Regions from separate parts of the Homo sapiens genome. Here region 2 is linked to region 1. Evidence: fine-mapped expression QTL. A gene starts in region 1. The other region holds a variant in brackets. All regions are shown on one strand. Distances are from middle to middle.

Evidence for each region. PIP is the estimated chance that this variant, and not a neighbour inherited with it, causes the effect.
Region 2: its variant is the best candidate, but not a certain one, in a credible set for the expression of LINC03010 in nucleus accumbens (GTEx, PIP 0.66).

What each region holds. Positions count from the first base shown.
Region 1 is chr7:155,375,789-155,391,444 of GRCh38, forward strand. It overlaps LINC03010 (long intergenic non-protein coding RNA 3010), which reads left to right and starts at 6,288. Exons shown (of 3, transcript NR_147174.1): 1 at 6,288-6,527. RefSeq lists enhancers at 2,298-2,798, 5,534-6,345, 6,346-7,157.
Region 2 is chr7:155,396,347-155,412,002 of GRCh38, forward strand. It overlaps LINC03010 (long intergenic non-protein coding RNA 3010), which reads left to right. Exons shown (of 3, transcript NR_147174.1): 3 at 4,543-5,436. Among named protein-coding and RNA genes, the nearest start is that of LINC03010, 22 kb to the left of the region's middle. RefSeq lists an enhancer at 12,168-12,890. The variant G/A (reference allele first, on the strand shown) is at 6,641.

The DNA of each region.
Region 1 (15,656 bases):
TTCCTAGTCCCCACAGGAGGGAGGAGGAAGGTTACAGCGTTTGTGGAATCAGGCTGCCAGGCGACGTTTCGTGGTTGTATTTGGCCCACTAAATCCTAGGTCGCTCTTCCTATGTACGACTGTAGACTCACCTTCTGTATCTTATACAGGAGATGTGTAGATGGCCCATAAAGGGCAGACTTCATACAAACCCTGTGTGAGCAGTGGGATTCACTGTAGGAGGTGCAGTGGGTATTTTCTCAAAGGCATTTACACCCAAGAGTTAACACCAAGTTGACGGGACCAGAGGGTCTTTGGTGAGCAGGCCACCAGAGATGGAAAGGAAGCTTCTCTTGTTCTCTGGTGCCAGTTGTGGCTGGATCTTCGCATCCTGGAGCCCAGCAGTCCTGTGATGTAGTGAGTCAATCCAAGACCCAAATGTAGGCAGGAGGCATCCTTGCTTCCTTCAAGAACAAGTCAGAGAATCAAGTAAGGAGGAAATAAGTGACATGCTAGTGAAGGCACAGTTATCTAGATGGTTGTTATGGGGTTCTCGTCTCGCCAAGCTTTAGATAGATCTGTTTCCGGAAAGCTCACTTTTAAAAAAATCAGATTTGAAGATTGTTGGAATTCTGGCTCTTTATAGTGAGTCACATCTCTATAGTCAGTTCATTTTCACTCGCATATGAGGTCTCAGTTTGAGCATCATGTTTTAAACTGTCTGCAATTTGATTTACTGGAAATACACCTCTACAGAGAAGGTGTAGTCTTTCCTGGTTCCATTCCCAATAGTATGAGGGTTATGTGTGAAGTTATTTGCATTTGTGTTCTCTGTCATTTTCAAATCACGGAATTTAAGAAGTATGTATAAATAGATTAAGTGCACAATAATACAACAAACCTAAAAGAGTTGGCAAATTAAACCTTGAAATTCTTTACAAAATTCCATATCTTATAAAGGACAACCATTAAGGGGACTTTGGTGTCAATATTTTCTGTAATGCAAGCCCTTTAATACTTTTCCACCACAACCTAAATTTGTCTGTAATCAAGCTACTGAGATAGGAATGCTGCATTCTCATTTTCCTCCTCCTATAAGCCTCTGTACCAAAACATTCAAAGGCCAGGCATTTACTTTTTATTTATACATATTAAAAATTTCTTCCAGGAGTGAAGTTTCCAAACACAACGTGTCTGGACAGGAAGCAAATGTTGTTTTAGGGGAAAGTTCTAATAACCCCATTTATGCAAGCACATTAGAGCAGAAAGAATCATTTCTGTTAGTTAACATTTTTGAGCCAGAAAATTAAAAACAAATATTTAACTTCCCAATTTGGAATTCAGGCTGGCATTGACGTCTAAACTTTGACAATGCATACTCAATGAATTAAACACAATCTCTACTAGCCAAATAAAACTGCCTTCATGTGGCTCAAAATAAGTTTGAATAAACTGAAAGATAAATAAAATGCACGGGGGACACCCAGGAAGAGAGCTGATGTGTGTGAGCTTGGCCAAAAGACGGCTTTTGGACTCTGCTCAACTCAGGGGTTTTATGACACCTAATAAAGCTATACTTAGAGAAGACAAATATTCAATAAATATGAGCACATACTTACAAACATATGTACTGTTTTCACTTTTCTTCTTCCAAACCTACTTTTACAGCAGTTTATTATTGGATATGAATTTCCCCTTCTCCATTTCTCATCACAAATTAGGTGGGCTCCTAAAGCGTCCCATTTCTCCCTTTAGATTTGGGGCCCCCCAGCTGATAAAGGAGTTGTGATTGCAGGTGGATTTGATCTGATTTCCCCTGAACAGGCTGGCGGTGGGAAGCAGGCATTGGAGTCCCACGGCTCACTGGACTGCAGCAGCGAGCCCTTCACGGTTGCAAAGGAAGGAAATTCCTAGCGGGGCAACTCTTCAGCGTCCGCCCCACAGACCTAGCACGATGTCCTTTTCTGTCTCAAGATACATCTGGCTGGGCTTCCCTAAAACCGGGCTTAGTTGGACTCCTTGGACCTGGGGATGAATTCTTGCCAACTATCTCCAAATATTTCCCCTACACCATGCCAGTGCAATTCATGTCTCCAAACCCCCTCTCCTCCACAAAAACGAAACAAAACAAAACCCCAGGTCCAGGAGCTCAGGCCCAGGCCGGATCCAAGACGCGGCAGCCAGGCAGCCCCGCCGCGAGCCTGTGCGGGCTTGAGCCGGCTTGGCCCCCGGAAGCCCCAGCCCCGCGCTCGGCAGCGTGCGCCCAGCGCCCAGAAGAAGCAGCTCCAGGCGGCCGCGCTCCCCGTCCCGCCGCGGTGCGGTCGGATGCCCAGCTCGCGTCCAGACCCGCGGGATGCAGACCCGGATCAGTCAGGCTTGAGGGCTGCTCCGCATAGACCAACGTCCGGGGAAGGCACACAGTGGCCGAGGGCCCGCGCGCTTGGGCTACGGCTGTGATGGTATCTGCGCTGCTTGCGCCTTGGGGATGGGAGGCCGCCTTTGCTGACTGAAGGGCCTGAAGAGGAGGCTTCTGGGGTCCCTGTAGCCTCACCCTGGATTCACAAAATCAAACACTATCTCCTTTCCCCTTCACCACCCCCACCCCACGAATACACATGGTGAAGAGAGGTTCACTTCTGTTCCTGTTGCTGAGTTTCAGCTATGCCCCTCGGCCTCGGAGGATGGCTCACCTTTACTGTGAATTTCTAGCTGAAAGAACAATGCTGAGAACAGGGATAACAAGAGGACCTCTCTAACAAATGCATCTGCTAGTTACAAAAGGGCTGGGAAGAACGGCTCAGGGACATTCCTCCCAGACCCAAGGAAAGGGAATGGAGACACATTTTGATGTTTTCTACATACTTGGTCAACTTGCAGCTACTATAGAACCCGCTCCCCACGGCCAGCTCTTCCTCCTGTTTTAGGGAGAATTTTGTTCAACATTCTACATTCTAGGGACCCTTCCTCATCAGATTAAGTGCAGAGTTACAGCAAAATAAGTCAGAGGAGAAGGATGGGGTAGAGATGGAGCGGAAGCTGGCGCTGGAGCCACTGTGTCCTGCCGGCTGCACCTGCACTCAATCTCAGGTACCATGCTGGACAGTGGGGAAAACAAAAACCTGGAGAACAGCCCAGAAAACTCCGCCAAGGTTTTATAGCTTAAAGATGGGGAGAGGAGGAGGCAGGAAGGGTTGGGCTCTGCAGGCCTTTAGAACGATCGGAGGTCTAATGAAAATAAATACCTTGTAAACATGTGGGTACCAAGTAACCAGAAGAGAGCTTAGACCAAGAAGGTCGGGGGGTCTTTTCCCACCTGTGAGAAAATAAGAGATCCTGGAGCTCTGCAGCCTTAGCAATGAACTGGATTACTGATTAGTGTTTAGAGGCACCCATGCATGAGTTGGCAAACCAAGCCATTGAAATGTGGAATCAGCAGGATCTGGCTTTTTGAATGTCCATTACTTCTCATGTACATGCATATCTATGTTAAATATGGAAAAGAAGAAAAAATTTAAAAGAGAAACAGAACCCTGCTTTACCAGATTAATCAAAATGGAATGATAGATTCTTGAGTTTGAAATAACCCCCGCCCCAGGAATTCTCCAGCGTCTCTGCAAGAAGCTCTCAGACAGACAGCAGTTAAACAAGGTCGGCAAAACCGACTCTCAGATTCAACAAACTGCTCTTTCTGTTTCTGCAACAGGAAGAAAACATTCCACGAGCTGATGGAAGCCCTCACAGACATACATCTGTTATGGCTTTCCCAGAATCCTGACCCCTGGACAATTCTTTTGGGAACACCCTTCTCTATCTAAGGAAAATGACATTCCTAAACCCTGCCCTGCCACCTCACATATGCAGAGTCTGAAAGGGAAGCCAAAACCCCTTGGTCATCCTCACTCTCAGCCCTCTGCCCAAAAGGGGGAACTTTGATCAAATGCAACTTTCTTCTCCTTTGGCCCCAAGCTTCTGTGCCCTCAGTTCACACTCACCCAGAATGCAAAAGCATTTGGATTCAGTGCTGTCCCCTCTGGCTTTCTGTCTGTCATTTGGCCTGGAAAGGACGGTCAGAAATGCCATGGACAGTTACAATTCGACTCAGTAACTTCCACATGGCTCATGAATGTCCTTGGCCACCCGGGAACTGCAGCCCTCTGCCCCCCAAGTTAATTGCTAAATGATTTGCAAACTTAAACAATTATACATTCTCTCTTGACTTGCCCCGAAGAAATCATGTTAATTTATGACACACTCACATGATCCTGATTAACAAACCTAGACTAAATTTGCATGTGGCAAAATGCAATACAGATATATATTTTAAAAAATAATATAAGCAGGTTTTTGCCAACTCTTTTCTCCCACGGTTTAATGACCTACCATCCTGGTTCATACGTTTTTTAACACCTGACTTTGGATATTTTTTTAAAATGAATCGATTTGTAGTCATTGCCTGGCTGCCTGTGGGGAAGGAGCTCCTGCCGTTGGCAGACACCTCTGCAGCCAGGCGTGGGGTGTCCTTCCATCAAAGCAACGCCAGGGGGCAAGAAGCGTTAACAAAGCCCGGGACGCTCCGCACTCTCCCTTTATCTACCCGTGTGTGCGTGTCACACTTTCCAGGGCGAAATGTCATTTTGCAAGGTTATACATTTCCAATTCCTCATAGAGCCTTATCGCTCATCATTTACCTCTTGGGCACAAACAAACAGCCTCTTTAAATAAAGCCAGGGAAGGGAAGCATATACCTTTGTACAATTAAAAATAGCACAAGAATGCCAAAATGTATTGGACCTTGCTGTTAATCCGACTTACCTGGCTGACACTCTGGCCTAATCCTATTTTCTCCTCGCATTAGAATGACTCTACAAGGCTACGTTTTGTTCTTCGGGAGCACAGTTTACCTGGCCAGTGGGCTGAGGATCAGAGAAGCCTCACCACCTAAGGTGGGGAGAGGGGCTGCAGACTGCCCAGCCTGGCCCCAGCCTGCTGGAGGTCCCAGTGCAGAGCCTGCTTGGCGAGACAGAAAGCAAACGAAATCACTCAAGGGAAACTTCGCTGGAGACAAAACACATTCAATTTCCTGAGGATTCTGCTTTCTCTCAGGAATTATTTGCTTTTGCCGAGGCACATTAAACAAATTAAACACTAAAAATGGAAGCTCCTTTGCTTCCTGGCTCAGAAAATAGTTTTTTTTTTAAAGGATATAGTACGAACAGTAATACAAATGAAAGAAAACAGTAACACTCTAGCTCTTTAAAATAAACTCATGTGGGCACCTAAAGTCCTTTTTGGCAAATTCTTATCTTGTGGGGCAGTGCAGACAATGGGAGCTTGTGCTAAACGGCTGCTGTCACTCTGCTGACATTCCAGGAAGCTTCCACGCAGCTACTTGGGCATCTTTTCACACCTTCACCTTCCAAACCGCAGTCCCTGGTGATCCTGACTTTTGCAGCCTGGCTCTGGGTCCACACGGGGCTGGAGAAGGGGATTCGGTCTGAATGGGTTCGTGGAGGGTGGGGCAGGGGGCTGAGCTGAGGAACGCGCTGGCGAGGGAGTCAGATACTGTTACTTCGTATTTTAGGAATGTATTTCTCCTGCACACCCCTCCCTCCCCTGCCCACCCCCCTCTCCCAGTATCATTGCTCTTTGAAATGTCATGAACTTGGCGCTTTCAGACCAAACCGCCGGGCTCAGGCCCGAGACAATGGGATTGTCAGAGGGCCAGCGCGGAGCTTTTTCTGCGTGTTCACGGAGCGTTAAGCCTTTATCCCACAGAACGGCTCTGTCTGACCGGGTCAGACAAAAGCCAACTTGCATCTTCCGCTCCGAGGGGATCTGGGCAGAGCCCGGGTACAGCCCTGCGCGGCCCCAGGGAGAGGGGGGAGAGGGCGCGTGTCCCCAGCCCTGCCAAGTGGCGTGGGGAGCGCGAGGCCCTCCTCGGTCAGAGCCACCAACTCTGGTCTCCGTGGACATCCCCCTTCCCCCGCCCGCTCCCGAGGCTCTAGGGCGGCCTCCTGGCCGCTGCCTTCTCGCACCCAGGGTCTTCGGCCTGGGCTCCACACCTCAGGCCCCTCAAGTAATCGGCCTCTTGGTGGCCGGGCACTGCCTTTCCGGCTGCTCTCTGCACCCGTCTGCCCCTCCGGCCTCCCCTGGCGGCTACAGGCGTCCGGGGCCCTCGCTCCCCAGCTCCAGGCGTCCCGGGAGCCAGGCGCGCAGCGGGGCGAGTTCTCGTGTCCGTGTGAGCGCGGGCGTGTGTATGCGTGCGCGTGCACGAGCGTGAGTGTGCGTGAGCGTGAGTTTGAGTGTGCATGCGGGTGTGAATGTGTACATGTACACGAATGTGAGTGTGAGTGTGCATGAGCGTGAGCGTGCGTGTGCGTGCGAGTGTGCACGAGCGTGACTGTGAGTGTGCGTGCGTGGAAGCGCGGCGGGGAGCCTGGCTGAAGGCCTGCTGCCTGCATGGCTGTCAGAGAAAAACAGAAGTGGGAGCCTGCTGCGGGCTCCGAGAGGACTTGATGGGAGCCCTGGCGCGCGCTGGGCACCGCGCGGTGAGTGTCGGGGGTGGGGGCCGCGGGTCTCCAGCAGCCCCTGCCCTGTGCGGACCGCCGCCCCGAGGGTCCCTGCTTGCGGGTCCGGGGCTGGGCGTGCCTGGCTCCCCCTTGCCCCCTGCTCCACCGGCAGGATTCAAGGGACGAGAGCTCTGGGCTGCGGAGAGTTGCCCTGGCTGGCCCCGTCCTGCAGCAAAGGGCGGGCGGCGCGAGTGGAGTGTGCGGGGCAGGCTGGGCGGCAGAGGGAGCCCAGGGGAGCCCATGGCATGGCACCGCCAGTGTGGGCTTATGAGGAGGTGCAGGCCGGGACCTCAGGCTGTGGGCAGGACCGCAGGCAGCGGCTGGCAGGCTCCAGGCAGGCTCTGGAGGACCCGGGATTTAGGTATTTATGCAGTGAGAAGGCAGGGGTTTGGGTGTTCTTTCTCCCCTCTTCCTCCTTGGAATTCAATTTCTTCGAAGGGCAGGGGGCAGGCCGGGAGGGAGGGACAGAGAAAGAGGCCGCGAGCCACAAATGCCGCCCCCCATCTGTTCAGTAGGGCTCACTTCCTGAGGCAGGGGTCCCTAGCACAGGGTCTGGGGAAGGCAAGGTGGGGGGTATAGGCTACCCAGATAAGGAGGGACTTGCTAGGTAGTGGCCCTGGGTCTTGAGGGGCTGGTTCCATCCCGATTGGTCCCCTGGTGCCTGGAGGGCTGTGGAGGGTCCCAGGCCTAGAGTTGGGGGCTGAGTGGGAGGACGGGCCTCACAACCTGGGATTTCTTTCCAGCTTCTGGGTCTGGATCTGGGCCTCCAGTCCCCAGCTGTGAAGCAGGAAGGGAGGGAGGGAGCCTTTCTGAGACCCTCCAGCCTCTACCCTGCAGGAAGAGGTGGATGTAACCTTGAGCATAACCTTGAGCAAGTCTTCCCAGCTTTTTAGGCCTCCACTTCCTCACCTGTAAAAGGAGCTGATGGGGGTAGACCATGTCGAATGTTACTTCTGGCTGAAACATTTTTTGTTGTGTTTTGTTTTAATTTGTGCAGAGTTGGACCTACTCTCTCATGGTGCAAATTTATTTCATTTCAGTTTCCGAGGCCAGGCATAGAATCCCTGTATATTCCCAGGGACAGTGACGCCTTATGCAGAGGATGGGCAACATAGAAAATAACCCTACCTGGGGGCACAGACAACTTATTCTTTAAAATGACCAAATGAAGCTAAATTGAAACAAAATTTTTTTTAAGTGAAATGAAACCAGTGATGCTGAGACTGAGTTGGCAGGCTGGGGAGGAAGACCTGGAAGCGTGTGTGGGCTCTCTGGGGAGTGCTCCTGGCTGGGTGCGGTCTCGGGTGGCCAGGCTGGGCAGAGGCGTTTCAGGATTTGATGGGAATCTTTGGCCTTGAGCTGTCTCCCCTACCTGCAAAGGCCAAGGCCTTCCCTCCACTGGCTGAAGTTGGTTGGGCTCTGCCCATCCATCCGAGCCTGCAAATTACTCACGGGGGGCTGCTAGTGCTGCCTGTGCAGGCTGGGGCCAGATGGGAACACTTTGTGGGGGCTGGCCAGCCTGGGACAGCAAGCAGCTGCTAGATTATTCCAACCCCTTTCTGTGTTCTTCACACCAGCAGGGGCTGGGGAGGCCGAGAGCCACAGCACAGCTTCAGAGAGGCCCCTTGGAGGTGTTCACAAACCCCCTGCTTCCCAGGAGGGGCACCCAGGTGTAGTTCCAGCCTAGCCTCTTTTCCCACGCCCGCCTTCTCTGGGGGGTGTCTCTGGGGGGTGTCTGGTCTGCGGAGCAGGGTCCAGACTTGCTTGTCTCCACGCTTCTCAACGCCTCCCCTCCACTGCCTCCTGCCTGGCTTCTCAGCAGCGGTGGGTGCTGGAGGTGGACTGGGTCATCTCCCCAGCCTCCCCAGCCTCCCCAGTCCTGCTCACCTGTTGGGGAATCACTGCCTGATTGTCACTTTACCCCTCTGCATCAGCTTCCCGGCATTGCCTTAGCGAAGTGCCACAAACCGGGGGGCCTACACAACAGGAATGTGTTCCCCCACAGGACCGGAGTCCAAAGTCCAGGCGTGGGCAGGGCCCTTCCCGCCCTGTTGGCCTCTGCTGTCTCCAGGAACGCTTGCTCCCTGGGCTCAGAGGTGCAGCATCCCAAAGCCACCTCTGCCTTCGCCATGTGGCTCTCACATGGTGCGCGTCTGCCCTTCCCATCCCGGCTCCTGAAGGAGAGCACTTGGAGAAAAGTGGGGATGCTCTATTGCTGCTCTCCCCACTGCTTGGTGTACCCCTGACGCCCTCCTGGGCCCTCACACCCTGGAGCACCCTGTCCCTGCACCCGCCCTGAACCAGAATCCAGGTCCAGCCAGGGCTGCAGCACAGCAGCACCAACGACGGGCGCATGGGGACAATAGCTGGAGGAGATTTGGGGCTCAGAAGAGAGGGGCTCCGGGGAACCCTCAATTGCTCATTTTGGCAGCATCTCCACTGGGTCTACATGCCAGGCAGCACACAGCCAGGACTTCAGGTTGTGTCCCCTGACTCGGAGTGGAGAAGGGGCAGGTGCTGGACCTGCAAACCTCAGACCCCACGCCTGGCTCCTGCTCTGTCTACGGTGTTTGGGAATTCACTTGGCCTCCAGGAATCGGCTTTCTCCTCTGTGAGATGGGAAGGCCATTCGGTATCCTAAGTACCCAATGGGCTGAAGATCAAACAAGATACAGGGTACGTGAGTTCTAAGAGCAAGGCTGAGTGTCACTGTTGGGGGCGGGGGTCCTTGCTCCCAGAGCTCCCAAGATGGTGGCGGGTGGCTTCCAAGATGGCAGCAAGCCTCTTGCTCTCTGACCTGGGGTTCTTGGCTTCACGGATTCCAAGGAATGAACCCTTGGGCCATGTGGTGAGTGTCATAGCTCTATTAGAAGCCGTGGGTCACAGAAGAGAACCGCGGAACCCAGCGACTAGTGTTCAGCTCGATTAGGATGAACCCGGGCACTTAGCCGTGCAGGAACAATGGTGAGCCTTTAGCCCGATCGGGAGCGGCAATGGGCGCCTCGCTGGATCAGAAGCGCAGTGGACACCCTGCTGGATCCGGAGGGATGGAAGTCGGCGGCGGGTCTGCGACGGCGGCAAACAGCAGTGGTGGACGGCGAGTGAAAGCTCAGCTCCAGCCATAACAAACACGGACCAGAAGAGTGGGCAGTTGCAAGATTTAATAGAGTGAAAACAGAGCTCCCATACAAACGGAGGGGACCCAAAGAGGGTAGCCATTGCCGGCTCGAATGCCTGGGTTTATATCCGGATCACTGTCCCTCCCGCTGTGCTCTCAGGCAATAGATGATTGGCTATTTCTTTACCTCCTGCTTTTGCCTAATTAGCATTTTGGTGAGCTCTCTTTACTACCTGATTGGTCGGTTGTGAGCTAAGTTGCAAGCCCCGTGTTTAGCGGTGGATGCGGTCACCTTCCCAGCTAGGCTTAGGGATTCTTAGTCAGCCTGGGAAATCCAGCTAGTCCTGTCTCTCACCACCTGGGAGCTTTGGCTCTTTGGGTGGTTCTAAACAGCATCAAGGTTGAGACCAATGTTATCTTTGGGGTCTCCACCCCCTGAAAACTGCCCCTACTTGCTAGTTCCTGCCAGGAAGACCCAGGTGATCAGCTTCCCTCAAAGCCCAGGGCAGAAGCACTCTGGTGGCCCCAGGTGCCTAGAGACAGGCAGAAGGGAGACACCCATGAGTCACTCCTCCACTTCTTCCAGAGACCATGCCGTTTTTTTCTTGTTTGTTTTTTGAAAGTGTCAAAAAGCCATGAGCACAAAGGCTCCCCTCTGCGCTGTGACTCTGGGAATCTGGAATAGAAACAGAAGCTCTCATCCCCAGGGACACCTTTCCTGGCACTGCTCCCCAGCCTCCTCCCAGCTCCAGGCTGAGAAGGGCGTCCCTCCTCCGTGTCCCTGCAGCAGCCAGCACCGAGGTCTGCCTCCACCCTAGCCACAGTGTGCTGCCATGTTGTGTTTCTGGGCCTGTCCCCAATGTCAAATCCTAGAGGCTAGGCCTCTTGTCTCTGTATCTCCAGGACAACAGGGTGTTTCACAGGCCTGCAGGCAGCAGGTGCTTAACAAACGGGTGTGAATGCAACCCTGGTCACCTCTCTGTCCATGGGGATGAGGAAGCTCTCCCCTTTGCCTGGAAGTTGTATTCCAAAAAGACATGACATAGGGTAGCATTGAATCAAAGCATCCTTCCCACCCTCAACTCCATAGACAGGGACAAGAAGAGAAGTCTTGTTGCAATGAGGAAGGAAGAGATGTAGGTTAAAATCCAGACAAGTTACCACTAACCCAGAACATTTAGGATTCCAGCTGTCATGTGCGGGGATCCAGATGCTGCCATCAGAGGGGTGGTGCTGCAGACGGAAAGCAGCTAGAACAACTGGCTGCGAGCCCCTCCCTCTGCAGCCCTGGGAGATGACTTCGGAAAGCCATCTCAATCCCTCAATCCCAAACCGCAGAGTGATGCCTCAGGCTGTGGGTAATTTCCCAAGGCCACGATCTCAGATAGGACCCCTTCGCCTCCCAAAGAGTTTGCTGGGCTTTCCCCAGTCTTGGGCGGACTTGGATGAGTGATCTTCCCTCCCTGCTAGAACCTTTGTGCTTGCAGTTCACATGAACTTGAGCGTGGATCTAATCATAGGGATGCAGGCCCGCAGCTGTGCAGACACAGATGCTGCATGAATGCATGCCTGCAGAAATGACGGATGCCATAATTCAAACGCTGAGGCGGCAGGCACAGGGGCCGGGTGTGTGTGCACACTTCCTACGTGCAACGAACTCCTTCGGTCCTCAGGACACATCTGTGAGGGTGGCCTGAGATCACCCCCATTTTGCAGATGAGGAAACAGATGTGTGGAGGGCCTGGGACGCACCAGGCCAGTGTCTGCCGGAGCTTGGGCTGTGCTGTGGGGGTGAGGGGCAATCGTGGGCCAAAGCCAAGGCCTTGCTCCTGGGGAATCCACTTAGCTTGACTGCTCGGTGGCCACCTCCGCCCATCACCACCCAGGGGAATAAACACTGCAGGTCATGTGGGGCGGGGGCAGTCTGCACGCTGGGGGTAGATCCACGCAGATTCCGTGCCTCCCGCAGAGGGGCTGAGGGTAGCACTTGGGTGGCTGTGCCAGGAGGAGCCCAGCCCAGGGAGAGGGTGTGTGCAGCTGGAGTCCTGGCTGCCAAGATCTAGGCAGTGGGGGCTTGGGCAGAGCCAGGTCTCATCACGGCATCTCTCAGGCAGGCCTTGTCCTCTCATCTGCAGAATAGGGCTACTAAAACCTCCCGTATGGGGTTGTTGAGATGAACCAATTGGGGAAAATGGAAAGTACTTTGAAAAGTTTGAAGCTGTATACAATAGCCATCTGTTGTCCTCAAAGTGAGTGGTCCTTGGGGGCAGGCTTGCTACAAAGTAAACAACCTGGGGCAAAAGGTTTTAGTTGTTTAGACAAGAACACACTGCCTTTCATCAGTGTGGGAAAGAACTGGATCGGGAATTAGACCACGTGGGCTTCAGCCTGTCAAAAGGTGTTTTCAAGTAGCTTATTTTAAGGGCCCTTTTATAATAGCTCATTAGCTCAAAATGTTTGACATTTTATATCTGAAGATGGGGCGAACAGGTGCCTTCATCAGGTGGGAATTCTGGGGGTGCTGTTGTGGCTAAGGGTGGTCCCTTTGATTGTCATTCATGTTCTGTCTTTCCTTCAGTCCCCTTGTGTCTAAAAACAATGCATTCTTATTGGGACTGCAATTTTGGTCATAGAAAAGCCTTTTGGTCTCAGGTTCCTGGGGCCGTGTGGCCACTGGATGAAAAAGCATTAGGTGGAGTTTATCTAAACTATAAAATAGATTAAGATTAAAAAAAAAAAAGAATAGGCCAACCTTAGTCAAGGGGAGAATTAAGATAAAAAAAAGAAAGCATAGGCATCTCCAGGGTATGCCCACTCTATGGCCCTAGGAACAAAAAGCAGACACTCCTCCAATCCCATCAGTTTCCAGAAGAAGAAACTGAAGTCCTCAGTGGTCCAATGAGTTACCTGATAGCTGCTTACTCTCCCACTCTTACTGATTTCATCAATCCACAGGTTTGTACTAATGAGTCATACCTGCAAATTTTTCAGTCCAGTTAGGAAGACAAAGCCACTGACAAGAAGCACCAAGGGGAGGACAAGGGCTCAGTGTCACGGAGAGTGTGCCAGGTGGTAGGAGTTCCTGGAAGGGAGGGAAGCTCCGCAGAGGCTGAGCCTTTCCGAGGGCTCGGAGGAGGGCAGGGGTTGACCAGAGAAGGCCTCCTCTGCACCTGTGCCCCATCCTTCTAGTCTGGGCCTGCTGGGCTTTCCCTTGCAGGACTGGTGGCTTTCACAGTGAAGACTGTAGAAGGTGTGTGCACTCCCCGGGCCCCTGTGGTCGTCCCAGCTCAGTGACAGCATCCCTCCTGTGATCTCTGTCAGCCCCAGGAGCTGCAGCGTTGCCCCCCACCAGACGATTGGCTGCTGCCCTCAGTGGCTCCCGGAAGCCAAAGGCAGTCTGCAGCCGGCCTCAGTGAGCCTTCGGGGGTCCTCTAGTAACCGGGTTCCTGAGCTCTTCCTGTGTGCAGACTGTGCTGTGTTCATTGCTGCCCAGCAGCGGGGCAGGTGGGGCAGGTGGGCCAGGGTTGCTGTAGCTTCCTCCCTTCCCAGAGAAGGGGAAGAACAAAGCCTCAGGAAGGAAATGAGCTGCTCAAGGTCATGGGTGGCGGTGAGGCGAGCCCCTGGAACCTGAGGCCATGCCACGTCCTCTGGGGTCAGATGGGAGCGGGTAGGGAGGGGCAGGCAGCCCTGACCCAAACCTTGGAAAGTGTGTCTCTTGTGTGCTGTGAAGAAGCGTAGTTCCCCATTTTACAGTGGAGAGGACAGATCATTTGTCGGGGGGTCACCAGGTGGCAGGGCATGGAGCCAGAATTTAAATCCAGGTTTCCTGATGCCAAAGCTGGCCAATCCTCAACTTCTATGCTGAAGTCAACCTTCAGGCCAGGTTGGTGCTGCCCTGGCTAAGAGGCACTGGCCATGGAGCCTCTTCTCCTCCTAGACACAAGCCAGATCCTCCATACGTAGAGGGGCTCCCAGAGCACGACAGGCATGGGTGCCACATCCCAGCAAGGCAGCCCCAGGTGGACGCGCTGGGGTTGGGGGGGCGGGGCTTGCTTCCCAGGAACATGGACCAGGTACAAGCGTCCAAGCTGGGAGGATGCTTGGAGAGCAGCTGCCTAGTGGGAGAAGATCAGGAAAGATGCCCCTGAAAGGGATTCGGAGTCAGGGCCCATCTGTCCCCTGGAACCACACAGTATGCACCACCAACTCTGGAAAGATTCAGGTGAAATGCTCAATTTCTGCCTTCTTTAGAGGACTGGGCTGTATGAATGGTCATATATTAAGTGGGAGGTGGCAGTGACGGGCTGGCACAGATGAAGCTGTCACTGCTTACATCAGCTGCTGAAATTATGTGCTCTTTGAACTAAGCAAGGGAGAGCCAAACTCTCTCATTTATCTCTGTGAAGTCCTCCGGTCATGTTTATACCATGAAATAGGACGGGAAATCTGAGCAGAAGCACCTTGGCCTAAAGCTTAGGAATCCGCTTGTTGAGTGCCCATGGCCATCAGCACTTCCCGGCTTCATGGGAGCCACAGCCAGAGATTCAGAGATGCGTGGACAGAGGCACCAACATGCTTCTCACTCAAACCACAGCTCAACTCACTGCATTATGTGCCAAGGGCAAGGAGGGTTCTCATCAATGTTGGTGACCAAAGACATTCACATCCAAACAAATTCAACATTATTTCTTCGTTTTTTCTTTCTTTTTTATTTTTTAGATGGAGTCTCGCTCTTGTTGCCCGGGCTGGAGTGCAGTGGTGTGATCTGGGCTCATTGCAACCTCCGCCTCCCAGGTTCAAGCGATTCTTCCGTCTCAGCCTCCCTAGTAGCTGGGATTACAGGAGCGCACCAGCATGCCCGGCTAATTTTTGTATTTTTAATAGAGATGGGGTTTTGCCATGTTGGTCAGTCTGGTCTCCAACTCCTGACCTCACATGATCCACCCACCTCAGCCTCCCAAAGTGCTGGGATTATAGGTGTGAACCACTGTGCCTGGCCAACATTATTTCTTGAGAACAGTGTGTCTTCATAAATTGCGTATGTTTGAGTGGGAAAAAATCATTAAGTAAAAAAATTCACAGTATAGTATTTCTTGGTAAATACCAGAAAAAGGCACTTTGGGAGGCTGAGGCAGGTGGATCTCTTGAGTCTAGAAGTTTGAGACCAGCACAGACAACATAGCAAAACCCCGTCTCTCCAAAAAATACAAAAATTTGTGGTGTGGTGTGGTGGCGTGTGCCTGTAGTCACAACTACAAGGGAGGCTGAGGTGGGGGGATCACCTGAGCCTGGCAGGTCAAGGGTGCAGCGAGCCCTGATCACACCACTGCACTCCAGCTTGGGTAACAGAACAAGATCCTGTCCCAAAACAACAACAACAAAAAAAAAAAAAAAAGAAGAAAAGCATAATGCATTTATCTCCCAATTTCATTAAAATATGAGCGTGACACCCTGTGTACAAGGGTTGTATACTAACCTAATGCTGGCGTGGCTGAGAGTTCACAGTTCACGTAACTGAGCTCAAAATCCTACCGTCTTGAAAGGGTCCGTGCCTGCTGGAGTCTAAGATGTCGGAGAGCTGGTTTCAATATGCACAGGCTGGGAGGCAGGATTAATAATGCATCCTCCTTCACAACCACAGGTTCTACAGCTGTGGATAATATTGCAGAGAAAGCGTAGCCAGTGCAGTCCCTGAAGCCAACATGTGAACGGCCTGGAGTCAAACGTTTAAGGAGCCTAAGCTCGAAATGGCGATGAGTTCAGAAAATGTGCAGTCATTCAATACCCAAATGCTTCTTTCCTTTTCTATGTTCGTATTAGACCTCGTGATAAATTGAGGGAGTTAAAGCAGTCCATTTATTTTAGGTGGGCCCAGCCCAGTTATGAACATGTTGAGACCTAGGAGGCCAAGAGGACCCACCTAAAACCCTCCCCCATTAAGGGCTGATGTGGTACCCCTGCAAACCCACTCCCTCGGGGCAGGAGATGCC
Region 2 (15,656 bases), 21 kb after region 1:
TGTCTACCACAAAAAAAAAAAAAAATTAGCTGGGTGTGGTGGCACACACCTGCAGTCCCAGCTACTCGGGAGGCTGAGACAAGAGGATCGCTTGAGCCCAGGAGGTTGAGGCTGCAGTGAACCATGATGGCGCCGCTGGACTCCAACCTGAGCAGCAGAGCGCAGCAGAGCAAGACCCTGTCTCACACACACACAAAAAGTAGCTCAATAAATGCATGACTGGATCTCACCTGAGGAGGGAAGAGTGAAGCGAAGGGCGATGAATTGGAATCACCCTGGCGGCCTATTTAAACCAGACAACCTCAATCTGTACTTAAACACATTGGCACCCACAGGGGGAGCTGACTGAAGGCTGCAACGTGAGTAGCAATACAGCGGTGACGGCCACCGATTATGAAATAGGACACAGGGATACAGCGGAAACACTCCCCGTGGATAGGGCAGGTGGTGAGAGGCTCTTCTCAGAGTCACATTCTGCTGGAGCTGGCTCCTGGCTCACACGAGCCGGCCGTGCACATCTCTGCAGCGCCTGGTTCAGACTCTTCTCTTCTGAGGCTGGAAGTTGGCCTTGGTGGGGGCAGCTCGTGGGGTGCCCCAGAGCCGGTTAGTGACCGTGGCCCCGCACAGCCTGCTTGGTCTCCTGCTGTGTTATCAGGGAATGGGTTCTTGAGCAGCAATTGTGCCCCCGTGGCAAAGGGAAGCGAACACAGACTTAGAGGGTTTGCTTTTTAAACACTTGAGGTCTCACAAGGCCTTAGTCCAGATGTAAGCAGAAAACCTGGGTCTCCATGGCCTCAGACCATCCAGCTCCCAAGCCCAAACCTCACCTTTAACATGGCACAGAATGTTACAAAACTCTTCCCAAGATATCAGTAATAATAGGTCATGTTGATGTGGCTCTTAAGATGGGCCAAGCTCTAGTGCAAAGAACTTTCTATGCATTAATGATTTAATCCTTTCAAAAACCCTATTGGGTGGGTAACAGTGTTTCCCTCCAAGTTGAGGAAACCGAGTGTTACAAGCTGAATTGTGTGTCCCTAAATGCTATGTGGAAGTCCTCACCCCAGAACCTCAGGGCGTGGCCTTATTCAGAAGCAGCGTCCTTGCTGATGGAATGAGTTAGGCTGAGGTCAGGCTGGAGTGGGCAGGGGCTACTCCAACATGACTGTGTCTTTCTGTGTCCGAATTGGTGGGTTATTGGTCTCACTGACTTCAAGAATGAAGCCGCGGACCCTCGCGGTGAGTGTTACAGTTCTTAAAGGCGGCGTGTCCGGAGTTTGTTCCTTCTGGTGGGTTTGTGGTCTCGCTGGCTCAGGAGTGAAGCTGCAGACCTTCGCGTGAGTGTTACAGCTCTTAAGGCAGAGCGTCTGGAGTTGTTCGTTCCTCCCGGTGGGCTCGTGGTCTCGCTGGCTTCAGGAGTGAAGCTGCAGACCTTCGTGGTGAGTGTTACAGCTCATAAAGGCAGTGTGGACCCAAAGAGTGAGCAGCAGCAAGATTTATTGCAAAGAGAGAAAGAACAAAGTTTCCACAGCCTGGAAGGGGACTGGAGCGGGTGGCAACTGCTGGCTCGGGCAGCCTGCCTTTATTCTCTTATCTGGCCCCACCCACATACTGCTGATTGGTAGAGCCGAGTGGTCTGTTTTGACAGGGCGCTGATTGGTGCGTTTACAATCCCTGAGATAGACACAAAGGTTCTCCGAGTTTCCACCAGACTCAGGAGCCCAGCTGGCTTCACCCAGTGGATCTCGCACTGGGGCTGCAGGTGGAGCTGCCTACCAGTCCCGCGCTGTGCGCCTGCACTCCTCAGCCCTTGGGTGGTCGATGGGACTGGGCGCCATGGAGCAGGGGGCAGTGTTCGTTGGGGAGGCTCGGGCTGCACAGGAGCCCACGGAGGCGGGGGGCGGGGGGCGGGGGGGGCGGGGAGGCAGGGGACGGGGGGTGCGGGGAGAGGTTCAGGCATGGCAGGCTGCAGGTCCCAAGCCCTGCCCTGCGGGAAGGCCGCTAAGGCTCGGCGAGAAATTGAGCACAGCAGCTGCTGGCCCAGGTGCTAAGCCCCTCACTGCCTGGGGCCGGTGGGGCTGGCCAGCCACTCCAAGTGCGGAGTCCGCCGAGCCCACGCCCACCCGGAAGTCACGCTGGCCCGCAAGCACCACGCGCAGCCCTGGTTCCCGCCCGCGCCTCTCCCTCCACACCTCCCGGCAAGCTGAGGGGGCCGGCTCCGGCCTTGGCCAGCCCAGGAAGGGGCTCCCACAGTGCAGCGGCGAGCTGAAGGGCTCCTCAAGTGCCGCCAAAGTGGGAGCCCAGGCAGAGGAGGCGCCGAGAGCGAGCGAGGGCTGTGAGGACTGCCAGCACTCTGTCACCTCTCACTTCTAAGACCAGAGGAGACACAGAGACACCTGGGGGAGACCAAGTGGAGACGGAGGCGGAGACGGGAGCAATTTATCCATAAGCCACGTGACGCCAAGAGTTACCAGTGGCACCAGCAGCTAAGAGAGGGCCTGGGACAGACCCTCCCTCGAAATCTCCAGAAGCAGCCAGGCCTGCTGACCCCTGGGTCTCTGCCGTCCAGCCTGCAGAGCTGTGGGAGGATACATTTCCACTGTTTTCAGCCCCCGGGTCTGTGGCACTTTGTGAAGGCTGCCCCCACAGAAGAAGACACTGAGTCTTCGAGAAGTTAGGAAGCCCTGAACCGTCCAAAGACACCAGGAGGGAAAAGGGTGGGAGGCGAGGGGCCAGCCCTCCATGTTCACGTGGCAAGCCGGAGCCAGGCTGGAGCTGAGGCCTCCACTCACCACCCAGGGTGCGCTCCGCTCACTGCCGCCCCCTGCAGGCTACCCCTGCCACCGAATCCCCCCACGTCATGGACTGCAGCCTCGCCAGCTGCCAGCCACACCCTTGCCACGTTCCTCCTCCTGTTCTCCAGCCCTGCCTCTGCTCCTGCTTCCCCTGCTGCGTGGAGACCCAGCACATCTCTTGAGCTGTGTGGCTTCTCTAAGGTGGCATCCGAGAGTTCCGCAGTTTTCCGAGAAGAGATAAACAGAACTTTTTCTCCATGACCAAGATGTCTTTCTCTCCACAACTCTGGTGTTCAATTCTTTTTATGCCAGGGAAACAGTCTCAATTTTACACTTCTACTTAACACCTGACAATTTTCCTGTAACTATTAGTGTTCAGTAGTAGTAACTATTAGGGTTCAGTAGTTGTAACTACTACTACGCAAGGAGGCGTTCTGGCGACCAGAAAAGGCTGAGGAAGGACAGGTGACAGGTGGGGCCACAAACCTCAAGGCAGGAGTGCGGGAGGAAGCACAGCACCTGGGACCACTGGCAGACCCGTCCCCTGCCTCGGAGATGCCTGTCCCTCCCGCTGAGATCACCGCCCGCCTGCCCTAGCACTGACGCACTGACCACGTTGCTGTCCTCAGGGCAACCTGTCTCCCTTCCCCTCTGACTGGCATCCCCCTGCAGACCTGGCCTTTGTGTGCCTAGAGCCGCACACAGTGCCTGACTGTGATAGATGCCAGCCAGGCTTGATCACGGCCACAAGCTCACACTCCGGGGCAGTCAGCCTGGCTCCAGCCCCAGCTCTGGTGCTTCTAGATAGCTGGTGAACCTCTGTGCGCCTCCGTCTCCTCGCTTACAGAGGTAATAGTGCTTGCCTCATTTGGGTGTTATGAGGATGAGGGGAAAAGGACCAACCCTGTGCGATGCTGGGATGTGGCCAGCACCCTGGAGGCAGCCCTAGAAAACTCCCTCCCACCAGCAGCCTAGAGTCCACAGCATTCCCACGGTGCCCGGGGCCGGGCTCCCCCGTCCCATTGCCCTGCCATCCTGGGGCATCACCCTCACCTGGGTGACTGAGGGGCAACAGCCCCACATCCGTGCTGCAGGTGGAGGGAGTGGGAAATGAGAGCGGATGGCAAGCAGCCTCCTCCATGAGGACGAGTCAAGAGGAGAGGGCGTCTCTGCACACCCCCCTGCCACCCCAGCTGCAGCCCCGCTGACACTCGTTGGCCAGGTTCCATTGCTGAAAGGAGTTAGGGGAGTCTGGACACCATGGGACAGTTGGCAGACTCAGCCCCAGGGTGTAAAACACAAAGCAGCTGTCATCTCGGGGCCAAGGTTTGCTTTGCGAAAGAAGCAGAGATGAAGGCCACGTGGAAGCCTCTGTTCGCTTCGTGCACACGATTCTGCACCCACAAACAGCCACGGTGCTAGGGGTTTCCACATGGTGTCCCCTTGACGCTCACAGAACTCCGGGGAGGCTGTGAGGTCACCCCATTTTCTGGATGAACCTCACAGTGGGAGAGGGATTTGTCACGGTCACACAGTCCAAGCATGTAAGAGAAGAGGTGCCTTCAGGACTGGCACCCAGGCGTCACTCCTGTCCCCCACTCCCTCTGCAGAAGCCCCTCAAGCCCACCGTGTGCCTGTTGACTTTCGCCCTGTGCAGCCTGCTCCAGCTCCTGGTGCTGTGCTGCGTGTACCATGCGTGCCCCTGTGGCAACGAGTCACCGACTCATCTCGTTTCCTTCCCGTGCAGATGCTTCGGGTAGCAGCCCAGCGCTCTTCACTGGACTGAAGGCACCTCTTCTCTTTAGAGAGAGAACATTTTCAAAGGTTAAGCCTAAAAATCAGGACAGATTTTACTTTGTTATTGTTGTTTCTTGAGGCCTAATTTTTAAAAAGCCTGTGTGCTGGCTGCTGATGGCCTTGATGAGAAAGTGGCCGTCAATTAAACAGACAAGGGGGAACCGAGGAATCCAGGTCAGCACGATTTCCTGATCTGTGGCAGTGACTGTGACCTGACTGGACTTGAGCTGGAACTTCAAATAACACCATTAGGTCCTAATCATATCAGAGGTGATCTAACATGACTTCCCACACCATCCCCTTTCAAAGATGCAAGTCACATGGGCACGTCTGTAAAATGCTGAAGGCTGCACCGTGTGAGCTGCACAAATTCAAAGTTTTCTGACTTTGCCAGCCCAGTAACACTGCCAGGTGCCAGCTTGTGGCATTTCTGTCAGAAACCCAGCTGGCATGAAAGTGGGTTTTTCATCCAGCCTGGAGTAGCCCCCTGCATTCAGAAATTCTTTGCCTGACTACAGAAGTCTAAATCAGGACTCACTTTCCCCCGAGCTAGAGGAGGAGGAATGTGAAGCCTTGGAAAGAGTCGGCACCATTCTGGGAGTCAGATTAGTACACCCCAAGAAAGGGAGAGTGGCTGGGCCAGCTGCGACACAGTCCCCAACCGCTACCCGTTCCTCCACCGCCCACCAAGCCCAGAGCAGCCTCCCTCAGCCAGAAGACAGCTTGGAGGATGGAAGACTGTTCAACTTGTGGCTTAAGCACATTATTAAAACCAAAGAGGAAAATTCTTTGAAGAGATGGGGTGGAGCTGAATTTAAGAGAAATAATAAAAACCATGACCAGGTTTTTCTGTGTCTGTTTTTCCTCCCTCATTTCTCCAGCAGCCTGGGGAGCACTGATAGAATAATTCCCCGGTGATTTCATCATGGAACTTCCCTTTCATCAACCTTCCACTGATCTACGTTGCCTGTGGAATAAAGTCCAAATGCCTTTGCTTGATTCTCCCTCTTCTTCCTCACCAAGCAAACGCCTTTTTAAACTAATAACGGTGGCCACCTGTGTAGAAAGCAGAAGGAATGAGGCAGGTGTGGGACAGGAAATGAGGTTGCTAAGGTATCAGTCAGCCACTGCTGTGACAAGGCTGCATAACAAATGGCCCCAACATGGAAATGGCTTCCTGCAGCAAACGTGTGTTTTTCTTGCTTTGGGGTCTCTGGGCAATGAGCAGCCCTGCGTCAGGCTGTTGGTCAAGTCTGTTCCACATGTTTCTGATTCTGGGATCAGTGGGGTCTGGGAACACTCTCCTGAGTGGATGGCAGAGATGCCAGAGAGCAAACCAGGCCGTGGATCATACTTAGTGTCTCTGCTTAGATGGGGTATTGTCACTTCTGTTCATGTTCCATTGGCAGCAGTCACCTGGCCAAGGCCAAGTCCCAGGGCAGGAATGTGTACTCCGTCCACCACAGCGGGGACCCTGCAGAACCCCATGGCACAGGTCAGACAGGCACCAATCTGTAACAGGCGGTGAAGAATTGAGAGCCATCTCTGGTTCACCACACATGCACTGTCTGAGTTTTTGGGGGCTGCCCTAGCAAATATTAATACCATGGGTGGCTTAAACAAGAGCTTTCCTTCCTCACAACTCTGGAGGCTGGAAGTCCAAGGCCAAGGTGTCAGCAGGGACTGGTTTCTCTCGACCTCCCCTCCCCCCGCCCCTGCCTTGGCTTGCAGTCAGCAGTCTCCTCACAGGGCATCCCTCTGTGTGTGTCTGTGTCCTAATCCCCCCTTCATATAAGCATACCAGCTATATTACACTAGGGCCTCCCATGTGACCTCATTTAACCTTCATGACCTCTGTGAAGACCCCAGCTTCACATACAGTCACATTCTGAGGTCCCAGGGATCAGGATCCAGCATATGAATTCAGGGGATTCAGCCCACAGCACACACCTTCTTATGTGCTTCCCCTAACCTGTAACATGGCAGGTTATGTGCATAATAGAAGGAAGAGCGGGTCCAGGTGCACAGACTTTCTCTGTTGGGGGCTT[G/A]CAACCCATGATGCAATCATGTGGATGCCCAGAAGACCACTAGGACATCCCATTGATCTTCATCATAAGAAATACAAGAGCAGTGCTGTCTCTGGTCGTGCCCACAGAGAAGGGAGTAAATAGTGAGGATTTTGTAGCCATGGGAACAAGAGGTCCTTCCAGAAGAAATGACCTCTTTGTTCTGGACCTCCAAGGGAGAGCAAGGGTGTTAGGAGCAGGGAGGGGAGGATACTTTGACTGAAAGTCTTTGCGGTGTTGGGGTGTCGTGCGCCTGGCATGGTGGGTGAGGAGGGAGCCGGGCAGAGGGCCTGGAGGGCAGAGAGCATCCCAGGAGGCCATGTTCTTTGGAGGGATTGGGGGCACAGCAGAGAAATGCAAGATTTCACTGGTCACCACGCTGCAACCAGGAGCAGATCTCGGAGAGAGAAAAGTAAGCCCAAATGGCCTCGCACAGGGTTAGAGACCAGGACCAGTACAGGACCCTCCAGGACACTGACAGGACCTGGCATGCAGGCTGGGACCGCTGTCCAATGAAGCTGCCAGGGTTCAAGCCCAAAGCCTCTCCCAGAGACAGAAGTGACCCAGGAGCCAGGGCAGGAGTCCGCAGATGCTGTTGTGCGCCTGGCGGGAGCCGTGGGTGAGCCCAGCAGGGAGGGCTGGCAGCAGACTCTCACTGGCAGCCACTTGGGCCTCTGGCTCCAGGAAGAGATGGGTTTTTGAGTCTTCAGATTAAAGGGCTTTACTCCCAGGGGCTGCGGAGGCTGGACAGAGGGGCTAAGTGGTGGGGACCCAGTAGATCTGTGACAAAGTGTCAGCCTGTGCTGCTGGCATGGGAACAAGGATGAGACCCAGGATTCCTGGCCCCACTGCAGCCTCCCATACCTCTCACCTGGTTTCCCAGGCTCCCCTTGGCCCCAAACCCACCTCACCCACCTCACCCTCATCACACCTGTCAGCTCCAGCCCCTTTCCTGAGCTACCCCATGCCAGGAGCTGGGGCTGAGACTCCCACTGAACCTTAGCTATGGGACCAGGCCAGGTGGCCAGATTCACAGCCCCCCAGTTCTAACAGCCTCTGCGAGTCAGGTGGATTTGATGGGGGGTGGGGGTTGAGCCTGGGAGGAAGCTCAGTCCATGCAGGCAGCCCCCAGCCACTGCCCACCCACCCCTCAGTGGCCCCCTCTCTACTGCGGGGATCCCTGGGGGAGCCCCTTCCTAGGGGCAGGTGCCCTCCTGAGCCTCGGTCACCAGCACCTCCCAGAAGGAAACAAAGGGGTGGGGAGCAGCCTAGGGCTCTGGCCTCGCTGCTGGAGGTGGCTGGAGGGACAGCCACCTCCAGGCACCAGGCAGGGGTCTGGCAGCTAGGGAGTGACAGCGCAGACCTGCTTATTTGCATGCCATATACTGCAGGAGACCTGCCACCGCCAACCCAGGAACAGAGAGGGAGAGACCCGCTCTGGTTTGAAGATGTCAGCACACAGCGGATCAAAAGTTTAGCCTGGAGGCTGCTGTCAGCCACTCAGACGCATAACTTTATACGGTTCCAGAGACGTGTGGTGCAGGAACTATGATGGGGAGACGACAGCAGGAGGAGGGCCATGGGGTGGGGAAGTTGGAGGTGGGCAGCCCCTGCTGGGGCTGGGGATTGGGCTGGTGCAGCCCCAGGCTGGAGGTGGGTGACTCCACCCTTTTATTTTCTGGGGCCTGCAGGTTCGGGTCCCTCAGCCCGGGCAGCAGCGTGGCCTCCACACCACGGGCCCCCCAGCGGGGCCCATCTTCCTGAGAGGTGGGGCGCCTGAGGGACTGCACCAGCATCCCCTTCAAAGCCTTCCCTGTCCCTTTTTTGCCCTCTCCCCAGAACAGCTCCCCCAGGGCGGCTGCTCTCTTCTCCACTGGGCAGGGGAGGAAGCAGGCCCAGCACTCGCCCAGGGAGGTGCCAGGACCAGAGCCCATCCCGGGAGGTGCTGCCACCTGGTCCCGTCCCCACTCACGCTGTGGAGAGGGCTCCTGTGGGTCAGAAGTCAGTTGGCACAGGCCCCCGCCTTCATCCCCAAGTGGTACCCATCATCGTTACATGGCACCTGTGGCCCCACCACCGGGTCAAGGGCTGAGCTCAGGGCCAGCATTCCCGTCTCCCCGTCTGGTGCCTGCCCAGGCCTGCTTGTGGTCTTGTGAGGAGGTGGCTCTGCAGGCTGCGGCCCTGGAAGGGGGATTCAAGCCCACCCGACTTGCTGAGGCAGCATAGGTGAGCGTCCTGCGCCTGGGGTCACCTGCCCCGCTGCCCCGGCCCCAGCACCACCGCCCGGAGGAATTTGTGGGTGTCAGTTCCCTGCTTCTCTCCTATCAGGAAACAGCTGCTTGAAATATTTTTTAAAGGAAAATATGAAGAATCAATTAGAAAGAGAATATCAAACAAGATTTTCTTGTTTAAAAAAATGACAAAATCCCTCCATATTTAAACTGAGTTCGAGAGAACCGTCCTGGTGTCTTTCTGCCTTTTCTGTGCTGCTGGCTTGGAAGCCTGACAGCAATTCTCCCAGTTTCTGAAATCTTTTTTTCACAGTCCACGGGGTGGTGTTTGCGAGACACACAGCAGAGGGCAGAGCTAGAAGGGGAGACGCAGCCGGTCCCTGGGAGAGCCACAGGCTGCCCCCGAACCCTCCACCTGTGTGCTGAGGCACGGTCCCCTCGGCTCGCCCAGTACGACTCGACTGGTTACAGGACCCCAGACTCAGTCCTCGCCCCAGTCACCCCTGCTCAGAGGTGCCAGTGGCTCTGGGCCTCTGCCTTCCTCCAGAGCCCCTTGGCTCAAAAAACCCTCAGCATCTCCCGCCCACAGCCTGTGGGGGCCTGTGCTACCCGGGCAGGGTGGGAACTGCCAGCAGCTCCTGGCCTCCCAGCAGCTCCTTCCTCCTGACACATTCCCCGTCCGGTTGGACCGTCTCCAGGAGTCCACACTCCAGCTCAGCCGGGCCATGCGGATCCCCTCACCGGAGCGTTCTTTAAGGACCAGGGCTGCCGAGCAGGTGATGGGCAGAAGGCCCCACCTCCCCACTGTGAGCCGTGTGTCTTGTGTGACCTTTCTGAGCCTTCGTGTCCTCATCTAGGTGGTGGCATTCGTGAAGCCCACAGGACGCCCCAGCAGGAAGCGGCTGTGGTTCTTGTCACCCCCACCATGGCTGCTGCCTGGCCCCACTTCAACCATGCCCGCCCCTCCGCTCGGCTGCACACAGTTTTGCTCCTCATTACAGGCTTCTCCACAGGTTTTCCTCCTGAACCATGTGGATTCTTCTTGTCTTCCCAAATCCACCAACCTCTCTGAGGGCAGGGATCAGGCATTCTTCTCAGTGTTTACTTGTGAAAGCATCTAGCAGAACTGGGGGCCTACAGACCACCTCAGAAATGGTTTGAAAGCAGAAAGTGCTACCATATGCAGTTGAAATTCCCAGGCAATTATGCATGTAAAAATTCCTGGTTGTATACATGGAACATCAAAGATCAGAAGGAAAGAATCAAATGCCTGACTGTGCTATGATAGCGCCATTTCCTTTAACTCGTTTCACAAACGCAGATAGAGCGCTTACCCCGAACCAGGCATGTTGCTGCGTGATTGATAAATATTAACTAAATTAATCTTTGAAACCACCCCATGAGGTGGGTATTATTGTTGTCACCCTTTCAAAAATGTGGAAACCGGGGTGGGGAGATGTTAAGACGCTCAGTCAAGGTCACACAGCTCACCCGCGGTAGAGCTGGGGTTCAAATGCAAGTGGTCTCGGTCCAGTGTTTACGGCTTTAAGGTGTGTTGGCTCCAGGGATGAGTCTTCATTTCTTCTGGGGGCTGCGGTTATGAAGAGACCGGCCCCAGACCCAGAGCCAATGCCGCCAGGCACTTTCTGAGAGGAGCAGCGGCGGTGTGAGAGTGTGGAGTGTGAGAGTGTGGGGTGTGAGAGTGTGGGGTGTGAGAGTGTGGGGGTGTGGGAGTGTGGGGTGTGAGAGTGTGGGGTGTGGGAGTGTGGGGTGTGAGAGTGTGGACTGTGAGAGTGTGGGGTGTGAGAGTGTGGGCTGTGGGAGTGTGGGGTGTGGGAGTGTGGGGTGTGGGAGTGTGGGGTGTGGGAGTGTGGGGTGTGGGAGTGTGGGCTGTGGGAGTGTGGGGTGTGGGGTGTGGAGTGTGGGGTGTGGAGTGCGGGGTGTGGAGTGTGGGGTGTGGGAGTGTGCGGTGTGGGAGTGTGGGGTGTGAGAGTGTGGGGTGTGGGAGTGTGGGCTGTGGGAGTGTGGGGTGTGGGGTGTGGAGTGTGGGGTGTGGAGTGCGGGGTGTGGAGTGCGGGGTGTGAGAGTGTGGGGTGTGAGAGTGTGGGGTGTGAGAGTGTGGGGTGTGGGAGTTTGAGGTGTGCGTGTGTCGGGTGTGGGAGTATGGGGTGTGGGATGTGAGAGTGTGGGGTGTGAGAGTGTGGGGTGTGGGAGTTTGAGGTGTGCGTGTGTCGGGTGTGGGAGTATGGGGTGTGGGATGTGAGAGTGTGGGGTGTGAGAGTGTGGGGTGTGGGAGTGTGGGATGTGAGAATGTGAGGTGTGGGAGTGTGGGGTGTGAGTGTGGGGTGTGTGAATGTGGTGTGTGAGAGTGTGGGGTGTGGGAGTGTGCAGTGTGTGAGTGTGGAGTGTGGGGTATGGGGTGTGGGAGTGTGGGGTGTGAGAGTGTGGGAGTGTGGGGTGTGGGGTGTGGTGTGTGGGAGTGTGGAGTGTGTGTGGAGTGTGGGGTACGGGGTGCGGGAGTGTGGGGTTTGGGAGTGCAGGATGTGGGGTGTGAGAGTGTGGAATGTGGGGTGTGGGAGTGTGGGGTATGAGTGTGTGGGGTGTGGGAGTGTGGGGTGTGTGAATGTGGGGTGTGAGTGTTGTGTTTGTGGGGGGGTGTGGGAATGTGGGGTGTGGGAGTGTGGGGTGTGAGAGTGTCGGGTGTGGGAGTGTGAGAGTGTGGGAGTGTGGGGTGTGAGAGTGTGGGGTGAGTGTGGGGTGTGAGAATGTGGGGTGTCAGATTGGGTGTGGGAGTGTGGGGTGTGAGAGTGTGGGGTTTGAGAGTGTGGGATGTGCGAGTGTGGTGAGTGAGAATGTGGGGTGTGGGAGTGTGGAGTGTGTGAGTGTGGAGTGTGGAGTATGGGGTGTGGGAGTGTGGGGTGTTGGAGTGTGGGGTGTGAGAATGTGGGAGTGTGGGGTGTGGGAGTGTGAGAGTGTGAGTGTGGGTGTGGGAGTAGGAGTGTGAGAGTGGGGCGTGGGAGTGTGGGGTGTGGGAGTGTGGAGTGTGGGGTGTGGGAGTGTGGGGTTTGGGAGTGTGGGGTGTGGGAGTGTGGGTTGTTGGAGTGTCAGGTGTGGGAGTGTGGGGTGTGGGAGTGTAGGGTGTAGGAGTGTGGAGTGTAGGAGTGTGAGAGTGGGGCGTGGGAGTGTGGGGTGTGGGGTGTGGGAGTGTGTGGTTTGGTAGTGTGGGGTGTGGGAGTGTGGGGTGTGGGAGTTTGAGGTGTGGGAGTGTGGTGTGTGGGAGTGTGGTGTGTGGGAGTGTGGTGTGTGGGAGTGTGGGGTGTGGGAGTGTGGGGTGTGGGAGTGTGGGGTGTGGGAGTGTTGGTTATGGGAGTGTGGGGTGGGGAGTGTGGGGTGTGGGGTGTGGGAGTGTGGTGTGTGGGAGTGTGGGGTGTGGGTGTGTGTGGTGTGGGAGTGTTGGTTATGGGAGTGTGGGGTGTGGGAGTGTGGGGTGTGGGAGTGTCCGGTGTGGGAGTTTGAGGTGTGGGTGTGTCGGGTGTGGGAGTGTCGGGTGTGGGTATGTGTGGTGTGGGAGTGTGGGTTATGGGAGTGTGCGGTGTGGGAGTGTGGCAGGCCACCCTGAGCTGGAGAGAGCAGCGACGGCTCCACCTTCCCTCCAGGGCTCTCTGCTTCTTCCCGCCCCAGCCACCGTCTCCTTGCCTGGCCCGGCGCCCCTCGGGACCTGACAGTTGTCAACCCCTTAGTGTAGATGTTCTTGACCTGCTGTACCTCCTGGGAATAAAGGAGAAATCGCCTAAAGGAATGAGTGTGTAATAGTGAAGTTCCAGACACAGTGGCACCTACGGCGGGGAATTCCTTGGGGTGGGGCAGGAACCCCCTACTGCCTTCACGCTAACCCATAGTGCCGCTCACGGCTGTCAAAGCTTGTCTGTGGCGCAGCTGTGGAGTCCTGGCCGCAGTGGGGAAGGGAACTGACTGCCGAGGCCGGAGGGCAGCCGGCCTGCCGAGGGGAACAGCTGGATCTAGGTCCAGGTCATGGGTAGGTGGGCGCGCAGGCAGACTTTCGTGATGTTGTGCACTTGACGTGTTGTGCTGGACTTCCACAGCAGACAGGAAGGGTGAACAGAGCAGCCCTTCAGAGAGAAGCACTGGGCAGTCACAGGGATTTGAGGGAGGGTGGAGGACACCCTGCAAGCCCTGCGTGGCCACCAACAGGCAGCGCCCTGCAGCAAGGGGGCCACCGTGTCCCAGCCTCTGCCGCCGCTTCTGTGCCATGAGACACTGGTGGGGGCACGTCTCCTGGGGGATGCAGAGCGCAGCACGCGAGGCGGGCTGTGGGCTCACGGGGCTGCCCCCTCCTAGCCTGGCCCCCAGTATCCGCAGAGTCCCTCCTCCCGAGGCTGTGCTCACCTGGCTCTCACCTGGTTGGTGTTTGCTCAGCACCTCAGCCAGGGGCCAGGAGCCGCACAGACAGACTCCCAGGGTGCAGGGGTTTCATTTGAAAAGATCAAGAACGAAACCCAAGCGGACTCGGTTGCTCAGAGCCATCAGGCCATAGCTTTGAGTGGCAGTCCGGGTGGTTCAGTGACTTTGAAATGGTTTCAGGATGGTGTGTGTGTGCTTGTGTGTCTGCACGTGTGTCTGAGTGTGCTTGCGTGTCTGTGCTTGTGTGTGAGTGTACTTGTGTGTGCTTGTGTGAGTGTATCTCTGTGTGTGAGTGTACCTGTGCTTGTGAGTGTGTCGGTGCTTGTGTGTGTGCTTGTGCGTGTCTGTGTGTGAATGTGTTTGTGAGGGTGTGTGCGCACGCATGTGAGAGCGCAGGTGTCTGTGTGTATAGAAGAGTGTGTTGTGTGAATGCATGCATGTGCTTACCCTTTGTATCCCCCACCTGCTTCCCTGCCTTGCCCACGCTCATGCGGGGAGGGGGCGCGGGGAGGGGGCGCAGGACGGGCCTGGTCCAGGCGCACAGGTATCCTTGGAGAGGGGCCACGCTCCAATGCCCAGGCTCCACTTCACGCACCCTTTGGGACTCCCTGAGGACCCTGCACCTGGGCCAGCCAGCAGCCTGGTGACGCGGGGATCATGCTCCCATGCTAAGGAGAGAGCCAAGGGTCAGGAGAGAGCCAAGGGTCAGCAGGAATGCACAGATGGCCGCGTCTGAAGCCACGGAGTCAAGTCTCCCCTTCCTGCCCTGCGTCACCTGGCTGATGACTTACCTGCACCGCACCATGCAGAGGAAATTGCTCAGATAGCATCTCTCCTGGAAGCAGGGCTGCAGAGATCTGAGGGGTAACCCATCCCCTCTGCTCCCCTGTCCCAGAAGCAGGCTAGTCCTTGTAAGTTGCATTGCCTTAGGGGAGATGACATTCCTCGCCAGATGCCCTTCTTCTTGTAATTACCATGAATAGGAATGCAGCCCCCGCTTCTCCAGACCTGGCCAACTGGGGGATAGCTCCTGGCTGGAAGCCCTGTTGCATATTGTATCAGTTTCCTAGTTTCCTGTGGCTGCTGTAACAAATTACAAGCTTAGTGGCTTGGAACAGCACGCATGCATTACCTTACAGTCCCGGAGGCCAGAGGGCCGGCCCAGGTCTCACTGGGCTAAGGTCAAGGTGTTGGCCAGGCTGGGTCCTTCTGGAGGCTCTGGGAGGGGAACAGTTTCCTGCCTTTTCCAGCTTCTCGGGTTGCCCACATTCCTTAGCACATGGTCCCTTCCTCCATCTTCACAGGCAGCAAAGTTGCCTCTGTCTGGCCATCTTTCCTAGTCACACCTGCCCCTGGCCTTAGCTAGGAAAGACCCAGGACACTCTCCTGTCTCCAGGGCCTCAGTCTCATCTGCAAAGTCCCCCGGGCCACACAAGGCAACAGACCCACAGGTTCTAGGGATTTGATCATGGACATCATGGGGAAGCCATTGTTCTGCCAACATCTAATAATAGAGACCCCCAAGTTTCCTCCCTCTTCTTGGGCCAGGAGTCCCCTGGGGCTCCCTGCCTCCTCACTAACCACTGTGACCTTGCTCCAGGGCCCGTAATGTGCCTCTTCCTCACTGTGACCTTTGCCAGTTCCCGACCAAGGCCTCCCCACCACTCTTACCTCCTTTTCCCAGGAAGAGGGGGTCCCTCCAGGTCATCTGGGGGGTCTCTCCCCTCCTGCTTTCCCACAGCCTCCCTCTGAGGAACTCGGTGAGCCTTCCTCAGAAGGCCTTCCAGAGACCCCTTGCAAAGCCCAGCCCTAATGTGCCGTCCCCCACCTACCACTGAGGCCCCACAGGGCTCACCCACAGCAGACACTCACTGCAGATGTGGAGGTGCCTTAGTGCCTCCCCCTTATTTGACAGTCTTAAACATATGCCCTAAAACCCAACTGTCAGCCCCAAAGATGACCACCACCCATCCACCACATTGCTGGAGCCACAGAGCGACCAAGGGCTGACCCCTCCAGCCAACAGTGTGATCTGGGGAGTTACTCAGTCTCTCTGTGCCTCAGTTTTCTGGTCTAGGAAATGGGGATGATAATAATAGTATCAACCTCATAAGGCTGCTGCGAAGCTTAACTGAAATAATATGAATATTCGGCATAGCAACATGCTCAGTAAAAGTTAGCCATCATCATCACCATCATCATGGCCATCATCATCACCATCATCTTCATTGCCATCATCTTCATCACCATCATCATCACCATCATCTTCAATGCCATCATCATCACCATCATCGTCATCGTAATCTTCATCACCATCATCATCACCATCATCATCGTCATCTTCA